2 linked regions of the Homo sapiens genome follow. The protein of the gene in region 1 purifies or fractionates together with the protein of each later gene. This does not show direct contact. Each region holds a gene or a part of one and is shown on either strand. Other genes may lie near its edges. The genes, in order: CMTR1 and DHX15.

Evidence for each region.
Region 2: the proteins of CMTR1 (region 1) and DHX15 purify together in Homo sapiens (co-immunoprecipitation; 3 studies listed by BioGRID and IntAct, with this or other methods). This does not show direct contact.

Annotation. Positions count from the first base shown.
Region 1 is NC_000006.12:37,426,923-37,438,796, forward strand, and holds the start of CMTR1 (cap-specific mRNA (nucleoside-2'-O-)-methyltransferase 1), read left to right. Parts: upstream 1-6,298; 5' UTR 6,299-6,455; intron 6,456-8,701; 5' UTR 8,702-8,707; coding exon 8,708-8,840; intron 8,841-11,874. UniProt on the Homo sapiens protein: S-adenosyl-L-methionine-dependent methyltransferase that mediates mRNA cap1 2'-O-ribose methylation to the 5'-cap structure of mRNAs.
Region 2 is NC_000004.12:24,550,833-24,562,703, reverse strand, and holds part of DHX15 (ATP-dependent RNA helicase DHX15), read left to right. Parts: intron 1-6,293; coding exon 6,294-6,453; intron 6,454-7,760; coding exon 7,761-7,979; intron 7,980-11,871.

The sequences.
Region 1 (11,874 bases):
TGCAACAAAAATGGCTTTCCCTGCTTTGTTTATACCTCTGTGATAAGAAGCGGGAATGAGAGATCAGGGCATGGATCCCCCATAATCAGAGGACAAAGTCCTCTTTGCCTACCCTGGCTCCCACAAGCTGTTTGTAAGCTGCTGCAGGAACATGTGCACCGCTGTCTGCCATATGGCTGAGTGGTGGTGGATGAGTAACTGCTGCTGTGCTAAGAGCTGAAATGAACTAAAATTAACCACAATTTACCATCCTTGCCTTCTTCTGGATGTTGCAGCCCTTATTAGACTCCGGAGTCCCATAATAGTTACATCAGACGGATTCCGCCAGCACAATTTTTGTCTAGGTGAGAAGCCATATTCCCGGTGCTTCCTACTCTGCCATCTTCCCAGAATCCTCTCCACCCAATTTTGACAATTTTGCTAGTATTCTCATTATTTTTATGGAAGATTATATTTCAGAGGTCCTTACTTCACCTTTCCAAAAAGGACAATTCCAGCATAACTTTCACAGTGTATTTAGAATTAATATTTTACCACTTTCAGTGGACTGTAGAAAGCTTCCTGCCTTATAGATCCCTTCACCCTTCCCCATTTATGTAGTAGTTATCATATGTGTTACATTTACACACACTGGCAACTTTATCAGACAATGTTATATGTTTTGCTTTTAATCATCAGGTATATTTGTAAGAGCTTAAAAGGAGAAAAATAGCCTATTATATATCTACCTAGCTATTTACCACTTTTATTGCTTTTCCTTCATTCCTGACATTTCCAGTTTTACTCTGCTATCATTTCTTTTCAGGCTGAATAACTTCCTTTAGGCTTTATTTTACAAAGTGTGGCTGGTGATGAATTCTCTTAGTTTTTCTTCATCTGAGAATCTCTTTAGTTTGCTTTCATTCTTGAAGGATATTTCTACTGGATATAGAATTCCACGTTGACTGTTCTTTTCTTTCTGGACTTGAAATGTTTCGTGTCACTACTTTTTTGGCCTCCATGGTTTCTGATGTAAGATCCATAGTCATTCTAATTGTTTTTCCCCTAAATGTGATACATAGTTTTGTCAACCTAAGCAACAGAGACAGAGAGAGAGAGAGAGAGAGAGAGAGAGAGAGAGAGAGAGAGAGAGAGAGAGAAACTCTCTAAAAAAGACGCTGTGTTTATTCAGGAATAAGCATTGCAATGGGAGTACAGCTGCCACAGTAAATAATGTGTGTATTCAGACAGGTAAAGGAAGACCAAAAATTTTTTAGGAAAAATGAGGAGGATTACATAAATGTTTTGAGACAATTATCCTTCACTACAAGGATCCTTAATAACAAGGGTGGTGTCATTGCAAGTTTGGACAGGCAGTTAGGCAGATGGTCCTTGCAGAAGTATGTTGTGTTGTTGTTGTTAGGTTGTGACGACTTTTGTGGAAGATTGTGATTTTTGCAGAGCCTTTTGTGATAGTTGTTGTTATCAGGCATTTATGCATGAGAACCCTCCCTTCGTGGGTTCCCTGGCTCTGTTTGTCAGAGTTTTGTTTTTTTGTTTTGTTTTGTTTTTTTGAGATGGAGTCTCACTCTGTCACCCAGACTGGAGTGCAGTGGTGTGATCTCTGCTTACTCCAACCTCCACCTCCCGGATTCAAGCGATTCTCCTGCCTCAGCCTCCTGAGTAGCTGGGATTACAGATGTGTGCCACTGCGCCTGGCTAATTTTTGTATTTTTAGTAGAGACGGCGTTTCACCATGTTGGCCAGGCATGTCTTGAGCTCCCAACCTCAGGTAATCCACCTGCCTTGGCCTCCCAAAGTGCTGGGATTACAGGCATGAGCCACTGTGCCTGGCCTGTCAGAGTTTTAAACATGAGTGACTCCATTTTGATTTTGACAACTTTCTCTGGCTGTTTTTAACATAGTTTATTTGGCTTTAGTTTCCAGCAGTTTGGTTATGATGCATTTGGAAGTGGATTTCTTTGGGCATTTACTGTTTGGGAAATTCTGAGCTTTTTGAGTCTGTAAATTCATGCCTTTTGCCATTGTTTGGAAGTGTTTAACCATTATTTCTTCAAATATTTTTTAGCGCCAAATATTTTTTTCTACCTCCTTTTCTTTGTAGGGACTCTGATGACATAAGTATTGGATCGTCTGGTATTGTTCCCTGGGTCCCTGAGGCTGTATTCACTTTTTTTTCCCATTTGTTTTTCACGTTTGATACTTTTCATTGATCTATCTTCAAGTTTAGTGGCTTCCTCCACCCCCATCATCATCATTCTGCTATTGAACCTATCTAGTGAAATTTTTGTTTTTGTTACTGTACTTTTTAATTCTAAAATTTCCATTCGGTTCTTTCTGCAGAGACTCACTATCTTTCTATTCATTTTTTAAGAGTCTTACTCCTGTGTTTTAGGTTATGGTTATAATGGCTATTCTTTAAATTATGGTAAAAAACACAACATAAAATTTACCATCTTAACCATTTTTAAGTGTTGTTGAAAGAAAAACTTTACATAAATAAAGTTTAGCAGAGATTATTTGAGAAAAGAATCAATTCATGAATTGGGAAGCCTCCCAAACCAGTAAAGTTTCAGAGAGCTTTACCTACCAATGGAGGCATGCAGTATTTATAGATAGAAAAAGGAAGTGACATACAAAAATAATCTGATTGGTTACAGTTTGGCATTTGCCTTATTTGGACATGTTTTGGCAGTTTGCATCCCCATGACTGACTGAAAGTTTACCTGCTATGATTAGCCCAGACTCAGATACTTGTTACAAGAATATACTCTCGGGAGGCCAAGGCAGGTGGATCACGAAGTCAGGAGTTCAAGACCAGCCTGGCCAATATGGTAAAACCCAGTCTCTACTAAAAATACATAAATTAGCCAGGCGTGGTGGCATGTGCCTATAGTCCCAGCTACTTGGGAGGCTGAGGCAGGAGAATTGCTTGAACCCGGGAGGTGGAGGTTGCAGTGAGCTGAGATTGTGCCACTGCACTCCAGCCTGGATGACAGATCAAGACTCTGTCTCAAAAAATAATAAAAAAAAAAAAAGAATATACTCTCAAGTTAGGTTACAGTTTGTTTACATATTATTAGATTATGTTATGTATGGAGGCAGATTTAAGCCAAATGTAATTTAACAGTGTACAGTTCAGCAGTGTTAACTATATTCGCATTGTTGTGCAAAATATGTGCATTTTCGGTTGCCTTTTAGTACAAGTTGGGAGAAAACGAAGGGGAAAAAAATTGGGAAACTCACTCTTGATTTGACAGTTCTTTGACTTCTGGTTTCCTTTCTCCATATTCCTGCCATTTACTTTATACTTTACCATTTACTTTTCAGAATCCTCAGATAGTTGTTCCATGCATTCTGTCTAAGGTTTTAAATTACATTCAGTGGGAGAAACAGAATGAAATGTGCTGTTTCCATTTTGACAGGAATTGGAAATTTCTGTTTTTCTTTTTATTCTTGGGTATTTTATATATATATGTGTGTGTGTGTATATATATATATAAGAGATAAGTCATTTGTCAGATATATGTATTGTGAATCTTTTCCTCTCATTCTGTGGTTTGATTATTCAATGTCTTAATGGTGTCTTTTGTTGAGTAGAAGCCTTTTATTTTGATGAACTCCATTTTATCATTATTTTTCTTTCGATTAATGCTCCCTGGGTCCCATGTAAAAAAAAATCTTTGTCTACCCTAAGTCTGCAAAAATATTTTCCTGTGTTTTCTGTTAAAAGCTTTATCATTTTAGATTTTATGCTTAGGTCTATGATGTATCTTAATTTGCATTTGGCATAAAGTAAGAATCAAAGTGGGCCGAGCACGTTGGCTCACGCCTGTAATCCCAGTCCTTTGGGAGGCTGAGGTGGGCGGATCACGAGGTCAGGAGATCAAGACCATCCTGGCTAACACGGTGAAACCCCATCTCTATTAAAAATACAAAAAATTAGCCGGGCGTGGTGGCGGGCGCCTGTAGTCCCAGCTACTCGGCAGGCTGAGGCAGGAGAATGGCGTGAACCTGGAGGTGGTGCTTGCAGTGAGCGGAGATTGTGCCACTGCACTCCAGCCTGGGTGACAGAGCAAGACTCCGTCTCAAAAAAAAAAAAAAAAAAAAAAAGATTCAAAGTTCGTGTTTCCCTATATATTTATCTGTTTTTTCCAGCACTATTCATTGGGTATACTCATATACATTAAAAAATAAAATTTAACTTTAACTTGACTATATTTTGAATGCATTCTCTCATTATTTAATGCTTTACATAAAAATTAAATCATTAAATTTGCTAAATATGTTAACTTTTTCAATATAACTCATTTCCTATACCTTATTTTATACCCTTCAAATTATTATTTTGAGAATGGGTCCATAAGCTCTACAAGATTACCAAAAGTGTTCATGTCATAATGCATGCTAAGAAGCCTCAGTGAGGTGGAAAGAAGGACACTAAACTTTAGAACATAGAGAACTAGGTAAATACCTGTTTGCTGCTTCCTAGCTCTGTAATCTTGAACATATCACTCAACCTTCATTCATATTCCACACTTCCACAGATTCAGTAAATATCTATTGAGCACTGACCACCAGCCTCTGTTAAATCTTGTGAATTTAATACAGACAGACAATCTTTCCTGTACAGAGTTTACAGCTGAGTCGGGGAGGCAGATGAGTCCACAGGCCATTATACAACACCGTGGTAAGTGCTTTGATAGTGGAAGGACAGAGTGCTTTAGGAGCTCAGAGGTGGGTCTCCCAACCTAGATTTGTGACATCAGGAAATATTTCGAGATAGGGACACTAAAGTGACTCCTGAGGGATAAATGGACATTAGCCCAGCAAAGAGGAGAAGCATGATCCAGGCAGGGGGCTGAACTCTTAAGAGACATGGCATGTTTTGTTTTGTTGTGTTCTGTTTTTGAGATGGAGTCTGGCTCTGTCGCCCAGGCTGGAGTGCAGTGGTGCAATCTCTGCTCACTGCAACCTCTGCTTCCCAGGTTCAAGCGATTTTCCTGACTTACCCTACTGAGTAGCTGGGACTATAGGTGCGCACCACCACACCCAGCTACTTTTTTTGTATCTTCAGTAGAGACGGGATTTCACCATGTTGGCCAGGCTGGTCTCGAACTCCTGACCTCAGGTGATCCATCCGCCTCAGCCTCCCCACGTGCTGGGATTACAGGTGTGAGCCACCGCGCCCGGCGGAGACACGGCATATTTGATAAACTGAGAAGAGTCAGCATGGGGAGAACTAAGGGATAGCAGTACAAGGCATACCTGAAGAAGGGGTCATGCTGGAGGGTCTCAGAGGCCATTTTAAGGACATTAGCTTTATTCTAAGAGCAATGGGACATCATTGATGGATTTTAATCATTGTTGGGTTGTGACAGGATCAGGTTTAATTAATCAATTTTAAATTCCCTTCTTTTCACAGGTGTTGAAAATTATAAAAATCACTTTGGTTTTGTGAAGAACGCATTAGAGGGATCACAACTGGAGACAGTCACGGGAGTTTGGAGTTACTGGAGAAATTCTGCCGAGAGGGGGTAAGTGCATGAATTGTGGCAATGGGGATGGGGGTGAATGGATGGATTTGAAAGACAATTAGGAGGTAAGCGCAATTAAGTGTATGAGAAACTTTGGGGTATGAAGAAGAGGGAGATTCCTCAGATTTCTAGCTGGACCAACAGGATGGATGGCAGCGCCCTTCACCAGGAAAAAAGTGAGCTGATGGAAGAACATAAGGTGAAATTTGAATTCATGGGGTTTGAGGTGACTGAGTGAGGATGTCCAACAGACGTTTGGCCATATTGGCCTGAAAATCAGAAGAGAGGTTTGAGATGGAGAGCCAACTGTGCCCATATGGTAAGATGCTACAGGCGGCATTCCTTCTGTCCTCCCGTCCTTCGTTCAAAATCTGTTGAGATGTCCCATAGGCTGGATGTTGGGGATACAGCAGGGAACAAGAACACTGCGTTCGCTCAACCAGTTTACCATCTACCTCTCTGAACTTGTTCTTAGTCTGTAAAATGAAGATAATGATAAGATTAAGTAAGATGAGGTCGTGTGAGGGCACCTAGCACTTACAATTTTTGTATTGGTTTCTCTTCCTCAGAGCCAAAGGAGGAGATAGTTACTTTTGCTTTTGCAGCCTTTTCCGGGCGGCTTTTCCGCGCAGGCGCCCCTGGACCTCCCAGGTTGAGAGGTGGAGCGGGCCAAACCTCAGCTGCCTTTCCCGGGGCCGGGACCCGGCCGGGGGAGGACCGAGGCGCGGCGCTGTCCGTGACGTCATCAGGCTGCGCTGCCCGCAGTACTGGACCCGAGCGCGACGGTGCGGCTGGCGGACCCGGGCTGGCTTGTGGGGAAACGAAACTGAGGGAGGAGGCGGCGGCTCTGGCAGCGGCGGCGACAGTGTCGGCCTGACCCCCCCTCCGCTCCCCGGCAGCTCGCTCTCTCCCCTCAGCGTGAGTGCCGACGCGCGGCCCGGGGGGAGCAAGCGGGCGGGCGCGCGGGCTCAGCATCCTTCTCCCCTCCACCGCCGCCTGGGCCCCCCGCCCGCGGTTATGGGTCTCCTCGCCTTCTGGCCCCTTATGTCTTCCCTCCTCCTCCCACCCCCAACGCCGGCTCCCTGGAGCCCGAGCTGCCGCTGACACACGTCTCTGCGCACACATTCACACGCTCATGTTATCTTCAAATGAAGGGACTGGCCGGGAGACATGGGAGCTTATCTCTTCTCTCTGTGATTAGGGGTGGCAGTGCCAAACCGAGGCCCAGGGAGAGAAGACTGCAGAGGGGATTTGAACCCCTTCTGTGCGGAAGCAGCAGGTAGAACCAGGCCGCTTGCCTTCCGCTTAGAAGTTCCCTGCCAGAGCATTCTGCTGGCATGTGTGGGTCACTTGAGCAGGGCACTGGTTAGCTGTGTGGCCTTCACCTCTGTGGCCGCAGTCTTTTCCCGTGGAAGATGATAGGGTTGGATGAGATGATTTGGAAGGCCCAAATCTAAGGTGATGTGGTTTGGGGAGGAGCATCCGCCTCTCCTGCCTTTCACACAGCTGTTCAACAGTCCGCTTTGAGTTTGCTGTACTTCCAGTCTCCCCCCGAGTCACTTAAGAATTAAAAGCTTTTAGCGCTTGCAATGGCTAGAAGCAAGCTCTGTGATGAGCCTTCCTTTATCTCACCCTGGGGGCCTTTTGGGGGTATTTAAGACTACGGCTTAAAGTGAAATGTGGCTTAGCTTGGTCTTGCTTTCTGTTTGCTCAGTGTCTCCGGTTCTTCCCTGGGACAGCCCCTGCCTGTATCTAGTAAGAGGCTGCTTTCTCAGGAAGGTGGCGGTTGTGCATTGGGTTGATTGGCTCTTCCTTGAGTTGGAGAGAACTGAAACATGTGATCCAGGGTTTTACGAGGTTGGGAGCATCAGTGACACTTTTGGGTTTCAATACTTTCTTGCTGTACCTCGCCTTCCCTAAGGATTGTTTCCCAGCTTGTCGCCCACCCTGTATTGAGTCCTCTTTTCTGAGTTCTCTACAGCCAATCAGTTGTGTGTAAGCCACACTGTATTCACTACTTCTCTTGCTTGCTCTTTAACTTGATAATTCGTTAAGATTTCAGGGTTTCATAATCACTTCATTCCATCTTATTTTTTTCTCGTGCTTATCTCTCATGTACCTAACCATGGGGATGGATGATTGATGGTGGCATGGTGCCTGTTTCTTTCTTTTTTGTTTTTTTGAGACGGAGTCTTGCTCTGTCGCCCAGGGTGGAGTGCAGTGGTGTGATCTCGGCTCACTGCAACCTCCGCCTCAGCAATTCAAGCGGTTCTCCTGAGTAGCTGGGACTACAGGCATGTGCCACCACCCGGCTAATTTTTGTGTTTTTTTTACTAGAGATGGGGTTTCACCATGTTGGCCAGGCTGGTCTTGAACTCCTGACCTCAGGTGATCCGCCCACCTCTTTCTCCCAAAGTGCTGGGATTACAGGCGTGAGCCACCGCGCCCAGCTGGTTTCCACTCTTTTTTGTGGAGGTGGATTTCTGTCCTTAAAATTGTTGTTTTCGTAACTGAGTTCTGTGGTATAGCTACCTCCAGTCCCAATAACTTTCCCGCTCTTGTGTTTCCTCGGTCTTAAGTCATTTCACTGCTTCCATTCCCTACTCTGCTTAAAAACTTTCCCAATTCTTTCATGTTTTCAAACATTATGAAGTAAACCAAAACCAGTATTTTTATGATATTATGTAATTTCTTAATTGTTTTGGTAAAATAATGCTGATGAAACAGTCATTCTGGGATGGTCCCTTCACCTTGGGAATATTGGTTAATATTTATTCGGTTTTATAGTTCATTTTCAGTGTACATTGTCATGCATGGCCAATATTGCATCAAAAGTGTAGAATAACTACAGGTACCAAGGCTTTATCCCCCAGTGGCTTGTGGAGTTGATCCATGACTTTCTGTTATCTGACACCAGTGGCCCAGGGCTCTCTCAGTCTGTGAGCACCACATTTTCCAGTAAAACAGCTATTATTGAAAACCAACACTTGTCTAGCATCCTTCCTAGACCTCATTCTGAGGAAGAGGCTATTCAAGTGCTGGCACTGGAAGATGTGTAGAATTGCCAAATCTCATCCCATTGATGATTTACACTTTGGAATCCCTGCTGTGATCCCAGTGGCTGTGACCCAAGGGCAGCTGACTGACTGGATTTATGGTTACAGTTAACGATGAAGAGGAGAACTGACCCAGAATGCACTGCCCCCATCAAGAAACAGAAAAAAAGAGTTGCAGAGCTTGCCCTGAGCCTCAGCTCCACGTCCGATGATGAACCTCCCTCCTCTGTCAGTCATGGAGCAAAAGGTACGTGTGCTTGTGTGGTCTGAGGCCACTGGCCATCTGGTTATTTGAACACACAGTGTCTAATCTAGGTGGAGCAGACTATAGTCCACTGCCCCTTGGTCCCTTGAGGAAAATTAGGAATACTCTACAGAGAGATGTTGGCTATAGACTCTTTTCCCTTCTGCCATTCTCCTACTAAGAGTGGGGAAACTTGTTTTAAATAAAAAATGGTAATTTTTCCAGAAGTTGCTTTCTGTTGGTTGTCCTTCAGTAGGTGGCACTCTTGCTGCCTTAAACCAGTTAGAAGTAGTGGTGAGCATTGAGTGCTGTGTGCCCTTAATAGCTGTTAATTATCCTGGGGCTCTTTTGTAAGGGAGGGCCTCTTTGCTGCGGCCGTCGAGCCTAATTTTCACTTTTTTTGCATGCATACCGTTTTCTCAATTCCTTCAGCGGTTGTGGTCAGAAGTATCCAACTACTGGAGCATTGCTGCGTTCACTGTTTGCATTAAGCGTCGAAGATTTCACTAATCTGGTTGAAACTAGCATTTTGCTTTGCCTGTCTTTTAGGGTTATTCACAGTTTCCATAGATGCTTTCTGAGGAATGGTAAAATGTCTGGGAGCTTGCCTCAAATACCTCAAGGTAAATTTGCATTTACCTTGACTTGCCAGCTGTATTAGTTTCTTAGGGCTACTGTAACAAATTACTACAAACTGGGTGACCCAAAACAACAGACATTTATTCTCTCACAGCTCTGGAGGCTAGTAGTCCAAAATCAAAGTGTTGGTGGGGCCATGTTCCCTCAAAGGCTCTTGGGAAGACCTTCCTTACCACTTCTAGCTTCTGCTGGCTGCTAGCATTCCTTGGTGTTCCTTGGCTTGTGGTAGCATAACTCCAATCTCTGCCTCTACCTTTCCTCTGTGTGTGTCTGTATCCAAATTTCCCTCTTCTTATAAGGACATCGGTCATTGGATAGGGCCCACTGTAATCTAGTATTACATTTGATGTAATCTGGAAAGACCCTATTTCCAAATTAGGTCACATTTACAGGCTTTGGGGAGGATACCATATTCAACCCAGCACACCAGCAGGCTTGCATATTGGATCCTCTGTTGGATCACTGGGAAACTGGAATGAAATTTCATAACAGATTGGTGACTGAAAGGGTGTGAAGCACCCTTTGAAGGTAGTAGGAAATACAGTTTATTCACAAGTGATAAGCTTATTGAAGGGCAGTTACTCATCAGCTGCTACTGAGAAGCTGGTCCAGAGAGAAGCTTGACAGGTGGTACAGCGAATGGAGCATCGGTGTCGCTGTAGTCCAGGCTAGATAAGAGAGTCAGTTGCAGCTTTGTATGTGGAGGTGTTCACGCCTTTAAAGCAAGCTTGTCCAACCTGTGGCCCAGGATTGCTTTGAATGGGACCCAACATAAATTTGTAAACTTTCTTAAAACATTATGAGATTTTTGGGGGATTTTTTTTTTTTTTTTAAAGCTCATCAGCTGGCCAGGCGCGGTGGCTCACAGTTGTAATCCCGGCACTTTGGGAGGCTAAGGTGGGCGGATCACGAGGTCAGGAGATCGAGACCATCCTGGCTAACACAGTGAAACCCCATCTCTACTAAAAAACAGAAAAAAGTAGCCGGGCGTGGTGGCAGGCGCCTGTACTCCCAGCTACTCGGGAGGCTGAGGCAGGAGAATGGCGTGAACCCGGGAGGCAGAGCTTGCAGTGAGCCGAGATTGTGCCACTGCACTACACGGAGCAAGAGTCCGTCTCAAAAAAAAAAAAAAAAAGCTCATCAGCTGTTGTTAGTGTATTTTATGTGTGGCCCAAGACAATTCTTCCAGTGTGGCCCAAGGACGCCAAAAGATTGGACACCTCTGCTTCAAAGTCACAGTAGATTCCAGGGTAGGTAGGAATTGAAGTTCCTGAGTAAGAAGGCAAAAACTTACTGCACGCGATGGTTCTGGAGATTCTTGAGGAAAGGGAATTTTACCTCTCACCTGGAATTTGAGCAGCTTGGTGAAGATAGAATCTCCTTGGGTAGGGGTATTGGGAGAGATGGCTTGTAAGGGAAAAAGAGAGAGTATGTCTGGGGAACAAGTGATATCTGGTTCTAAGTGGATCTTGGGGGACATTTGCTCTCAAGTAACATCTCTTTGAAGTAAGGAAAGGACAAGTCCCAGGTAAAAGAAGGTAAGTGTATAAGGGTAAGGATCCTTCAAGGAAACCGTTCTGATTTAAATTTCAAGCTTTTGTGACTGAATTGAGATTACTCTTCCCCCTTCTCTGGAAGTGGTACTATATGACTCAGTCAGGATTGACTATTGCTGTTGTGTGTGTAGAATGGAAATCCAGGCTGGGCATGGCGGCTTATGCCTGTAATTCTAATACTTTCGGAGGTCAAGGTGGGCGGATTGCTTGAGCCCAGGAGTTTGAGACCAGCCTGGGGAACATGGTGAAAACCCACCTCTGCAAAAAATACAGATATTAGCTGGGCATGGTGGCATGCACCTGTAGACCCAGCTACTCGGGAGACTGAGGTGGGAGGATCACTTGAGCCTAGGAGGTAGAGGTTGCACTGAGCCAAGATTATGCCACTGCACTCCAGCCTGGGCATCAGAACAAGACCCTATCTCAAAAAGAAAAAAAAAAGAATGGAAATCCAGAGGTGTCCAGTTCCTTGTATGTGTCTGGCAAGAGGCCACTTCGTCCTTTCATTTGCAGAAAATGAGATGGGAGGCAGAGGCAAACCAACATTTCTAGATTTCCCTAGGTTAATTTATTTTAGGAAGGGGCAGCTCTGCATTGACACAGAAACTGAGGGCAGTATCTTTATCAGCAAGACTGCTCCCTGTGCCTTCTTTCCCACCATGCCTAGCCTGGAGCAAAAGCTCAGTAAATAGTTACTGAATAGAACTGATAAAAGGCAACAATAGTATCTTTTCCAAGAAGCTTAAAATGCGTCACAGTTTTCATTTTGCCTGTCTCCTCCAGTCTGCAGAAGATCATTTCATTAAGTACTTAGCATTTATATCACCTATGTTCTGTATCTA
Region 2 (11,871 bases), on another chromosome or scaffold:
GGATTATGTGTATATTACACTATGTTTTATAAAGTGTATGGCTATCCCAAGGATTTATGAGTTACATGGAGGCTAGTTAAGAGTGTGGTATAGAACCGTTTATTGAATATTTCCCAAGTGCCAGGCAGTTAGTGTACTGAGGACTTTATATATGTACATTGTTTTATTTTAAACAATTTTTACCCTGTTCACATTTTTACAAGGGGACCATTACGGAAGAAATTGTCCAAGATCAGACAATAATAGGAAAACAGGGACTTAAACCCAGTTTTGTCTTGCAGCAAGTATGTATTCTTAACCTCTGTGTTTTATTTCCTTCATCATTGTTCCTCATCGCTCCATGTAATTCTCTGAGTGTATTGTAAAGCTTTCCTAGGTAATATGGAGAACAGTAAATCTAATTACTCAGATTAAACAGTGCCATTCATTTATAATAGATGCCTTTTTCAGGTTGCTTTATTTATGCTTTTTTAACTTTTAGGTTCAAGGGTATATGTGCAGGTTTGCTGTATAGGTAAATTGCATGTTGTAGGAGTTTGGTGTACAGATTTTTTTTTTTTTTTTTTTTTTTTGAGACAGTGTCTCACTCTTCCAGGCTGGAGTGCAGTGACCCAATCTCAGCTCGCTGCAGCCTGTGCCTCCTGGGTTCAAGCGATTCGATTCTCTTGCCTCAGCCTCCCAAGTAGCTGGGGCTACAGGTGCACGCCACCACGCCTGGTGAATTTTTGTATTTTTTGGTAGAGATGGGATTTCCACATGTTGGCCAGGCTGGTCTTGAACTTTGACCTCAAGTGATTGACCTGCTTCGGCCTCCCAAAGTGCTGGGATTACGGGCTGGTGTACAGATTACTTTGTTACTCGGGTAATAAGCATAGTTACCTGACAGGTAGTTTTTCTGATTCTCTTTCTCTTCCCACCCTCCATCCTCTGGTTTGTTGTTCCTTTCTTTGTGTGCATATTTACTCAAAGTTGAGCTCCCAACTGAGAACATGAGGTATTTGGTTTTCTGTTCTTGTGTTAGTTTGCTTAGGATGATGGCCTTTAGCTTCATATATGTTGTCACAAGAACATGATCTCTTTTTTATGGCTGCATAGTATTCCATTGTGTATATGTGCTACTTTTAAAAATGAATTCTACTTTTAATGGACATTTAAGTTGATTCTATGTCTTTGCTATTGTGGATAGTACTGCAGTGAATATACACAGGCCTGTGTCATTATGGTAGAAGGGTTTATATTCTGTATACCCAATAATGGGATTGCTGGGTCAACTGGTAATTCTATTATAAATCTTTGAGAAGTTGCCAAACTGCTTTCCACAATGGCTGAACTAATACAATCCCACCAGCAGTGGATAAGCATTCCCTTTTCTCTACAACCTTGTTATTTTTTGACTTTTTAGTAGCCATGCTGACTGGTATAAGATGGTATCTCATTGTGGTTTTAAGTTGCTTTATTTTTAATGGCTGCATAGCATTTGTGATTGTACCTTAGTTTACTTAACAAATTCTATTGATGGAACCTCATTTGCAGTTTTTGCTATTAGAAACATTTGCTGTCCTCCGTATCCTCTTACAAACTTGTACACACATTTTTTTCACGCATACACATCTGTGAAATAAATTCCCTACAAGTGAAATTGTTCGGGTCATAGAGTATACTTGAATTTTATCAGCTTTTGGCAGATTGCCCTCCATAGAGATTTTTATATACTCTCACCAGTAAGGAATCAGTAAATGAGCATCTGTTTCTTTACCCTTGCCAACTCAGCATTATAAAACTTTTTATCTTTGTCAATCTTGTTAAGTGAAAAATGGGATTACTTTATGGTTTTAATTTGCATTTATTTTCTGTGAAATTGAACATTTTTGTATATTAGCCATTTGTATTTCTTTTTGGAATCTGAGACTGGTGCTTTTTTCATCTTCTCAGGATTTCTACCTAGTTGATAGCTGTTTTTAAGGTGCTATTTTAAAATGCATCTTAGTTTCAGAGAATTTAAATTTGACCAAATATGCGGTATTATAAAATTGATAGAATTAGATGTTTCATCATATGCTTTGCCCATATTTCTATAGTGGATTGGCCTTTTTCTTATAGATTTGTAGGAGCTTATAACAGAATTAGCACCTTGGATATAAGTTGCAATTTTTGCTCAGTTTGTCATACATTTCTTTGCTTTATGACACTTCATGCTACATAGAGACTTGAATTTTGTACACGTATTGAATTAACCACTTTTATGATGTCCAGGTTTTGCATCATACCCTGCCCAGTGTTGGTTTAAATAATTTAATCCATGTATTTTACTATTTTGTTTTTGTTTTAAACATTTAACCAAGCTGGAATTTTACTGGGGAGGGATCATAAGCTTTGAGGTAGGGATTTCTGGTTTTCATTTTATAAAAATGATTTTTTGCCTTTCTTAGGCTTAGTTTGTAATTTTTTGGAATGTTTCATAAAATATATATACATATATATAAATACAAAAATATAAATAAGTAATATATTTGCAGGATGTAATGTTTTACCATGGTTTGTTCAAATCAGAATTAGTGATGTGTTAGGTGTCGTCATCTTGCTGAGATCATAGTTGGCAGTTGGCTTGTAGTTATACTACGCCATCTACATGTGCCTGTTGCAAAAAAATACTTAAGCTAGGTTGATACTGTTCAGTACATGGGGTTTTTGGTATATTTTATTAAGCAGTCACAGTTGAAAAGCTGAACTGTTACTTACTCCAAGGATGTTTTTGCTACTTTAGACATCTTTAGGTAATCTGCTTCTTGTTTAATTTGATTAATTTAGACTAGTGTTTCTTAAACTTTAGCAATCATCAGAATCACTTGAAAACTTGTTAGAGCAGATTGCTATGCCTCACCTTCAAAATTTCTGATTAAGTAGATCTGAGATGAGACTCAAGTTTTGTAGTTCTTACTAGTTCCAAGGTGATGCTAATAAATTTTTAAGAGCATCTCTGCCCTAAAACAGTTGGAAAACACTGTAGATAGTAAGGCACCCAGTAAAGTGTGGAGTTTGGCTATCCTGTGGCACTTTTATTAATTCATCATTGAAACTTCAAACTTAAAATTTTACTATTGTGACTCATTCCTTAGCCTGGATAAATATTTCATTACTACTAAGAAAGTTAGTAAAACTTGACTCTTACATAAAGGAAAATGGACTGTAGTTTTTATCTCCAGTGCCTGATTCTGCCTTTCCTGAGTTCTGTGTCAAGTTAGTTTTTTGTTGTTAAGCAAAGGGTTTCATACATTTAACAGTATAGCAAATCGTCAAGTACTGTTTCTTTTTTTTTTTTTTTTTTTTTAGTGGCTTAAAATTGACAAATTCATTCTCTCACAATTCTGAAGGTCAGAAGTTCAAAAACAGTATGTTGGCAGGTTAGTTCCAACTGGAGGCTCTAAGTGGCAATAGTCTTTCATGATTCTCTCCTAGCTTTTGGTGGTGGCTAACAGTCCTTAGCATTCCTTGGCTTGTAGCTTTGTAACCACAGTCTCTGCCTTCATCTTCACGTGGCTTTCCTTTTGTGTTCAAATCTCCCTCTCTTTACATTTTGTAAGGATACTGGTCATTGGATTTAGGGCCCACTCTTAAATTCAGGGCGATCTTGTCTGAAATTTATAACTTAATTACTTCTGCAAAGACCCTATTTCTGAGTAATGTCACGTTGATAGGTACCAGAGGTTAGGACCTGGGCATATCTTTCGAATAGCTTTTTGCTATGAAATTTGTACGTACAATGGGTTCCTTTATCTGGGACTTTGTGAAGAGTGTGTTAATGTAGGAGAGACTTAGGACTGGGAATCAGTACAGTGATACCTAGTCTTAGTAACTGGTTTTGAGAGTCTGGAAAAGTTGACTACGGTTTTTTTCGTTTTCTTCACTGGAAAAGAAGTAAATTTGACTATATCCTTGAGACCTTTGAAATTTTGAAATTTCATTTTTCTTGAAATTATTCATTGTACAAACAGCAGTATCCCATATTAACTGGTGATGCAAGAAGTAATTAAGTGCAGCACCTCATGGAATGGGATCACTGGGTGATGATCAGTATTGAGGAACCATTGGGAATTGTCTGGATGATAGAAGTTTTGGCCATTTAACTAAGTACTTGCAATATGCATAGTTAATAAAGCACAATAAAATATTTCCATTAATCTAATTTATAATATTTATAGTCTGCCATCTGTAACATTTCTTCCCTTAGAAAAATAAAAAGGAATGTCTGTTGGTTAGCTCTGCTCCATATTGTGATTGATTAAAGCTTGAGGAATGTGAGGAGAAAAAAGATCAAAATAAAGAAGGTGACTTTTAAAACTAGTTTTAAGAAGTTTTCAACTTAAAGTCATATTTTATCATTTCTGTGACTTTTTTCTCAAGTTTTTATTGTCTGAAGTTACAATGTGTCTCACAATCTACTGAGGTCTTGTAGTTGGTGGCAGTTTGGTTATTATTGCCTGTGAATGCTTGAACTCGATCTAGCTGTACATATTTTCACCTCAAATAATGTGAATTGTTGGGTCTGTATATACTGAGAGTATTTGCTAATTTAAATGCCTTCAGAAATATTAAATATTACACTATGATTCCATGTTGAAATGAGCACTGAGTATCAAGAGGCTGGGAAATGGAGCAATAGGGTGTAAATATGCTAGTATTTGAGCAAATGTTGGAAGAGTAACCAATCCTTTTTTTTTTTTTTTGCCTTGCAAATCAACAGACCGCTCTATTGAAGCTAAGAGAGGTAACTCACAAATAGAGGAAGCTGTATGTTATGTTCTGCTACTGAGATCATGTACAAGAGTATTGCCTCTCTCGTGTCTGTGATATATCGGAAGACAGGAAAAATTACCAAACGTCCTCAGATCAAAGAAATTTCAAAGCAGCTAAGGGCTATAGTGTTGCTGATTCTTGCACTATGCTTTACTGTCTTTAAGGCACTGAGTCATAATTTAATTGGCAGTGTTTTTTCTTTCCTGGTCTTACATAAAATAACCTTATAGCTAATGCTGTTTGTCCCTCCCAGGAATGTGGTAGTTTATTTTTAAAAATATGACCAAGGACAAGAAGCATAAAGCATATAAATGAGTTAAGATGGATTTGTTTGCCAATAGTTTATGAAATTTAGAATTAAGTTTAGGTGAAATAAAGAGAATTCACTTCTTTTTGTTGTACACTATCAATTTGCTGAACTTAATGCTCCAGCAGATGGCATGAGCTAAAAATATCCAGTTGGTCCATGAAAGATTAGGTTAGACTAATCATAAAAAGAGCCAAAATGGTGAATTCATAAATGATGGCTTCAGATTTTTTAATACCACTTTTAAATCCGTAAATAAAATAATGGGTTTTTATCTAACTGGATGAGCTGTGACTTAAGCATCTAAAGGCATCCTGTGTTTTGTCCAGGTGCCAAAAGGAAGATAGTTGTTTTTCATAGTGACATCAGTAACCAGTGTGGAATGGACAGGAGATAGCTGACCCCTGCAAAGTTATACAATCTTGACCCTTGATCTCATTGCCTTCATTCTTACGTGGCGCCTGTCTTGTGATAACTGGAGTCCATATTAGCAGCCTTCACTTGAGCCATCCCTAACTAAGCCTGGTTTCCCTTTTTGGTTCATTGATCAATCTGACGTCATTTGTTTTTATCTTCCATTTATGTATCAGCATTTGTTTAGTGTTGATGCTGCCCCTCAGTCCCACTTCTTTTATTATTGAATTCCTTTTGTGCTTTAAGATTATTTCTTTGGGGTGGGAGGACTCACGCTTTCAGCCCTTTTGAACCAAGAGCCTGTTGTTAGCTTATTAAGTAAGGAATTGTTAAGGCTTAACAAAAAATGTTTATTTGCATGTGGTAACATTTTAGTGGTGTGACATGAAGCAACTTAAAATGGTTTATTAGATTTTGCGTGTTGAATATTTGTATGTTTTTAAAAGGTTTAAGAAATTGAAAATGACGAATTTTGCCTTGGCATTCATGTGAAACCATGTGATCATTATGTTCCATAATTGGTCATATCATGTCTTCCCAGTACATTTCAGTATTACATTTTTCAAGAATTGATGAAGCATATCTTGTTTCATTGTATACTCTTAAAAGATTTTCTTGAAACTTAATTTTGCAATTGATCATGAAACAGTAGCACATTTGTTTGGGGCAGAAGTTTATTTTTAATTTACCTTATGTCTTTGCATTTCATTTTTGTCACGAAGTTTGGTTTTAAAATGACCTAACGGAACCTTTAACCAACATGTTCTTTGGAATATAGGTATATGACTGATGGGATGTTACTTCGTGAAGCTATGAATGATCCCCTCCTGGAGCGTTATGGTGTAATAATTCTTGATGAGGCTCATGAGAGGACACTGGCTACAGATATTCTAATGGGTGTTCTGAAGGAAGTTGTAAGACAGAGATCAGATTTAAAGGTGAAGTAATTTCTTCTCTCCATTTAACTATATATGTGTGTATGTGGGCATAAAAATGGGGAATACATACTGATCAATAACCAACTGTAAGAAATCACCTGTAAAAGAAGGAACTAGTAAGTACCTTCTTGTTTTGTTTCTGCTTTGCTGTGCTTTCATTTTAGACTTTATTTCTCCCCCTTTATAGTAATGCATTTTTAAGCCCAATCTTCTCAATTTGTAACCCACCTAGTTCTTTTATAATCTAATAACATATATGTGTAACTGTGCTACTCACTGTACCCTTCATTAAGTACAGAGGCTTATTTTACTTAAGGATCAAATCTTTCTCCCTCAGATCCATGTCCTTGTCTCATCACAAACACCCATTGTAACTTATAATGCTGGAGAGTGGAAATAACTATACACAGGACAGGCAGCTCCTTAGAAATGTAGTCACTTACCCTCGTGTATTACTTCTTTCCTCCATACCACATGTACCTTGGCCCCTGTTACTGTATTGATTAAGGGCCTAAAACTATTTTCTGACATTTTTGTCCCCCAAAGTCTATGATGTTCCCCTTTTTGCTGTGTTGTGTGTGTATACTATTCATTGGAATGTAGACTCATCCCTTGTTGATACAAGTGTTATAGAAGGGTTCATAGCCTGGTGACAGAGTGAGACTCTTAGCAGAAACAAACAAACAAACAAGGGTTCAACACTGGCAAGAAAGATTCTGGGTCTTTAGAAAAAAAACTGAGGCCTGAGCATGTTTTTGTTTATACAAATTAGATCAATGCTTTAAAAAATATATTTAAAGAATAATGTGAGTACTATCATTATTTATTAAATTTATTGTGCTACCAAGGTTTTAGTGAGAACCTGAAAGTAGAAATTAAGAACTCTTATGAAACTTTTTATGGAGGAACCTTTTTATATCTGGTCCACTTATTTTTTTTTTTTGCATTTTCTGTTTTTTCCTATTTGCAAAGTTTTGTTTTAATAATGGTAGCAATAATTATACTGCATATTAATGTTTTCTTTTAGCAATCTGAATTACATATAATTTTATAAAATCTGATTTTAAGGTATTTTATGAAGAAATGCTGTAGTTTGTGCATTTATTTTTTTTCTAAATTTTTAAAAATGTAAATAACTTTTACTATAGTTCAGCCATTATGTATTTGATTTTTCATTTACAGTTTATTTGAAGGTTTTCATGGGCATTTTTATAGCTGATATATGTAGAATAGTAAATATTGCTATACTGTAAGACCATGTAAGAATCCTTGAAGACAGCTTCAAATAATTTACTGTTTTCTTTCAGGTTATAGTTATGAGCGCTACTCTAGATGCAGGAAAATTCCAGATTTACTTTGATAACTGTCCTCTCCTAACTATTCCTGGGCGTACACATCCTGTTGAGATCTTCTATACTCCAGAACCAGAGAGAGATTATCTTGAAGCAGCAATTCGAACAGTTATCCAGATTCATATGTGTGAAGAGGAAGAGGGAGATCTTCTTCTTTTCTTAACTGGTCAAGAGGTATTGTTTTAATTTTCTTCATTATTTAGCTTTTGACATACTGTTTCTAATATGCAGCAACCTTAATCATAAGAACATGTTAATCATATTTTTTATTTCAATGTTCTTCAACCTGATTGTATTAATATGTAAAATATATAACCCCTTTTATCTGCATACTGTAGGAATACTTCTGTATACCACTAGAGTTTGTGTTATAATTATTTTAAGAGTGTTAAATGCTTTTGGAATTTCAAGATTTTGCAATTGTAGTTTAAGAGATCCCTGGGATATAAGTGCTATTATGCTGAAGCATGAATGTGCATCACAGCTGCTTTGAAATCAGGTTATCTTCATCAGTATTTAGCTTGTGAGTGAACTTGGGTGCCTATTCATCATCAAAACACTTCAGTTTGGTTTTGTCTTCCCATATGCTCATGAAATTTGGGAAGGATTACTAAAAGTTCTTAGTTAGAATTTACTTCATTTAAAATTTTATTCTCAGATGTAGCATTTCTTTTTTTTTTCGAGACGGAGTCTTGCGCTGTCGCCCAGGCTGTAGTGCAGTGGTGCAGTCTTGGCTCACCGCAAGCTCCGCCTTCTGGGTTCACGCCATTCTCCTGCCTCAGCCTCCCAAGTAGCTGGGACTACAGGTGCCCGCCACCACACCCGGCTAATTTTTTGTATTTTTAGTAGAGACAGGGTTTCACCGTTTTAGCCAGGATGGTCTCAATCTCCTGACCTCGTGATCCACTCTCCTCGGCCTCCCAAAGTGCTGGGATTACAGGCGTGAGCCATCGCACCCGGCCAGATGTAGCGTTTCTAAGCTTCTTTTCAATAGGGTGTTTATAGGTGTGCTGTGGAATACCTGAGTGGCTAAATAAATTCAGAAGCTATTTGGATAATACAAAGTTTTAAAAAGCCTTTTACGAAAGGGTTTTTCTTTTTCTTTTTGGGGGTGGGGAGGGAAGACAGAGTCGCGCTCTGTCAACCAGGCTGGAGCGCAGTGGCATGATTATCGGCTCACTGCAACCTCTGCCTCCCGGGTTCAAGCGATTCTCTTGCCTCAGCCTCCCAAGTAGCTGGGATCACAGGTGCCCACCATCACACCTGGCTAATTTTTTTTTAATTTTTAGTAGAGACGGGGTTTCACTATGTTGGCCAGGCTAGTCTCGAACTCCTGACCTCAGGTGATCTGCCCTTCTCGGGTTCCCAAAGTGCTGGGATTATAGGCGCGAGCCACCACACCTGGCCCCAAAATGCTTTTTTGATGGCATATAAACAGCATTTGTGCTGTAATGTAGTATTGAGGCTGTTGGGATAATCGTTTTGTCCTCTTGTGTCTGGTCTCTAGTTTCTCATTTCCTCCAAAGTGCATAGTATATTTTTATTTTTATTTATTTTGTTTTATTATTTATTTATTTGAGATGGAGTTTTGCTCTTGTTGCCCAGGCTGGAGTGCAGTGGCGCGATCTCGGCTCACCGCAACCTCTGCCTCCCAGGTTCAGGTGATTCTCCTGCCTCAGCCTTCCGAGTAGCTGGGATTACAGGCATGCGCCACCATGCCCAACTAATTGGTATTTTTGGTAGAGATGGGGTTTCTCCGTGTTGGTCAGGCTGGTCTTGAACTCCCAACTTCAGGTGATCCACCCGCCTCGGCCTCCCAAAGTGCTGGGATTACAGGCGTGAGCCACTGCACCTGGCCATATTTTTATTTTTTAAATCACTATTTAAAATTGTCATCATTCTCAGATAACATAAGCGTATTGAGATTCTATCAGAAATATCAAATGGCCTCATGGTTAAGGACCCGAAAGGTTTTTCTCTGAGACAACTTTGTGCGGTATTTTCTGTGAATCCCACAGCTGGGGAAAGGAAGGGAGTAAGCCGAAGGGTTTTCAGATGTATGCTAGAGTGTCTTTCATGAAATAAAATGCTGCTCTAGTTGTCAGCTGTTTTTTTGCATACCATTGCTTCTTTAAGTTATCTTTAGATTCCCAGTCTTGAATTTGAAGAGTTTTGGGGAGAAGGTAGCAGAAAACCTAACGTTTTGTTTACATTTCATTTGTTGTATTTAGTAGTAGAGCTGGTCTAAAGTAAATATTACCTTCTCATTTTTGTGAACCTTCATTATTTTTACTTGGTAAGTTAAATGCAACTGCGAAATCAGTACTCCTTTCTTCATAAATTTGAATAGCCTCCATGAAATTGAGTAATCTCATAAAAATTTAAAACTGGTTTTTAAGAACATATTCTGACCACTAAATAAAAGTGCTTCTGTAGTCACATGAGTTAATTTGGGAGGGAGAGAGAACAGTTTAAAGTGTTGCCTAGATAGTAATTAGATAAGAGTGATTGTAATTAAATAATTTTATTTTTAATTTTGCTTAGTAAATTTTTTTTTCAACATGCAGTGAGTTAATTGGTAAGGTCCAGATTAATTTACTAACATATTGCTGCTTTTGGAGTTAAAAATCTTTTCTCAAATCAAAAACTCCTGAACTGTCTGTCTTTATTCTCAGTATTGCTAATGACTAAGCAGATGGCTGCTGTTGAAACTTCTTTTCCTCCACTACCTGTTTCTGTTTATATTCTGATGAATGCAGATAAGTTTTGTGGCATTCTCAGCTGATAGTGTTGACTTCTTGGAAGTTTGGCAAACCTCAGGGAAAATTTTTATTGCAAGTTTTAAAGCTGTTTAGGACTTTATCTAAAAACTTAAGTGTTACGGGATTTCTTCCACATTTTAGAGATGCCTTTATATCCTACATAGTCATCATTTTGTTTTAGCTCCTTGCATACTTAGCAGATTGGGTAGTCTAATCTCCAGTAAAGTTGGAATTGTCATTTTAAAATACTGGAATCACAAAGCAAATGTCTAATTTAAGCACTTAATTTTTAATGTGTGAAATCTGGATATTTTGTGATTTCTGAGCATTTATTTTTCATTTATGTACAGTAAAATTAACAAAATTGCAGATACTCTTAAATGTTGGAATCCTAGTTTTATATTATGTTCAAATGTTTTTTAAGTTGGAGAGCTCTTAATTTTTTATTTGCATGCCAGCAGGGGGCATTCTAATCTAGATACAACATTTGAAAGCAGTATTTTCAAAAAATATTTGTTCGCTTTGTTATATTTTTTATTTAGATGAATAGCATCTACTTTCATTTTCTTTTAGAAACTTGAGATTTCAAAGGAGGATCTAGTAACATTGAATCTTTAATAGTTTTCTGTGTCACAATTTTTGAGACAGATAACCTTTAAAAAAAACTGATGTGTTTGAAATAAGTGAAAAGTAATTTATTTGTTCTTACTGTGTTTAAGAACGTTGTGTTTTTTGATATAGAGACACAGTTGGACATTAAAAAAATATAAAGTAAATGTCCTAAAATTCTTCCTCACCGTTTAGTATCATTGTCCTTTGAAAAAAACACGCACTTTGTTGACAAGGGTAGCTTCTGATTGGGTCATTTATTGGACAGGCTGCCTAGTGTATAATAAGCGTTTTACATACTTCTGGGTTTAATTGAATTAATACTTCAATAAAATTTAGAATACATTTGTCCGCAGTGCTGCCTTCCATTTTTAAGTTCCTTTGCCTCTCCCAGAGCTATCATACATAATCTGTCTCTCTCTTTTTTTCCGTCTTGATATTCATTATGTCTCCTCTTGAATGCACATGTGTTAGAATATAGTCATGTGCCACATAACAACGTTTTGGTCAAGACAAACTTCTCAGATAGCTGTGGTGCTGCTCCCGTAAGATTATAGTGGAGCTGAACGTAACCTTGCAGCATCACAGCACAACACATTACTCACTGCTTTGTGATGATGCTAGTTCAAACAAACCTACTTTGCTGCCAGTTGTTTTAAAAGTACTATATAGTATGTACAATTATGTCCAGTACA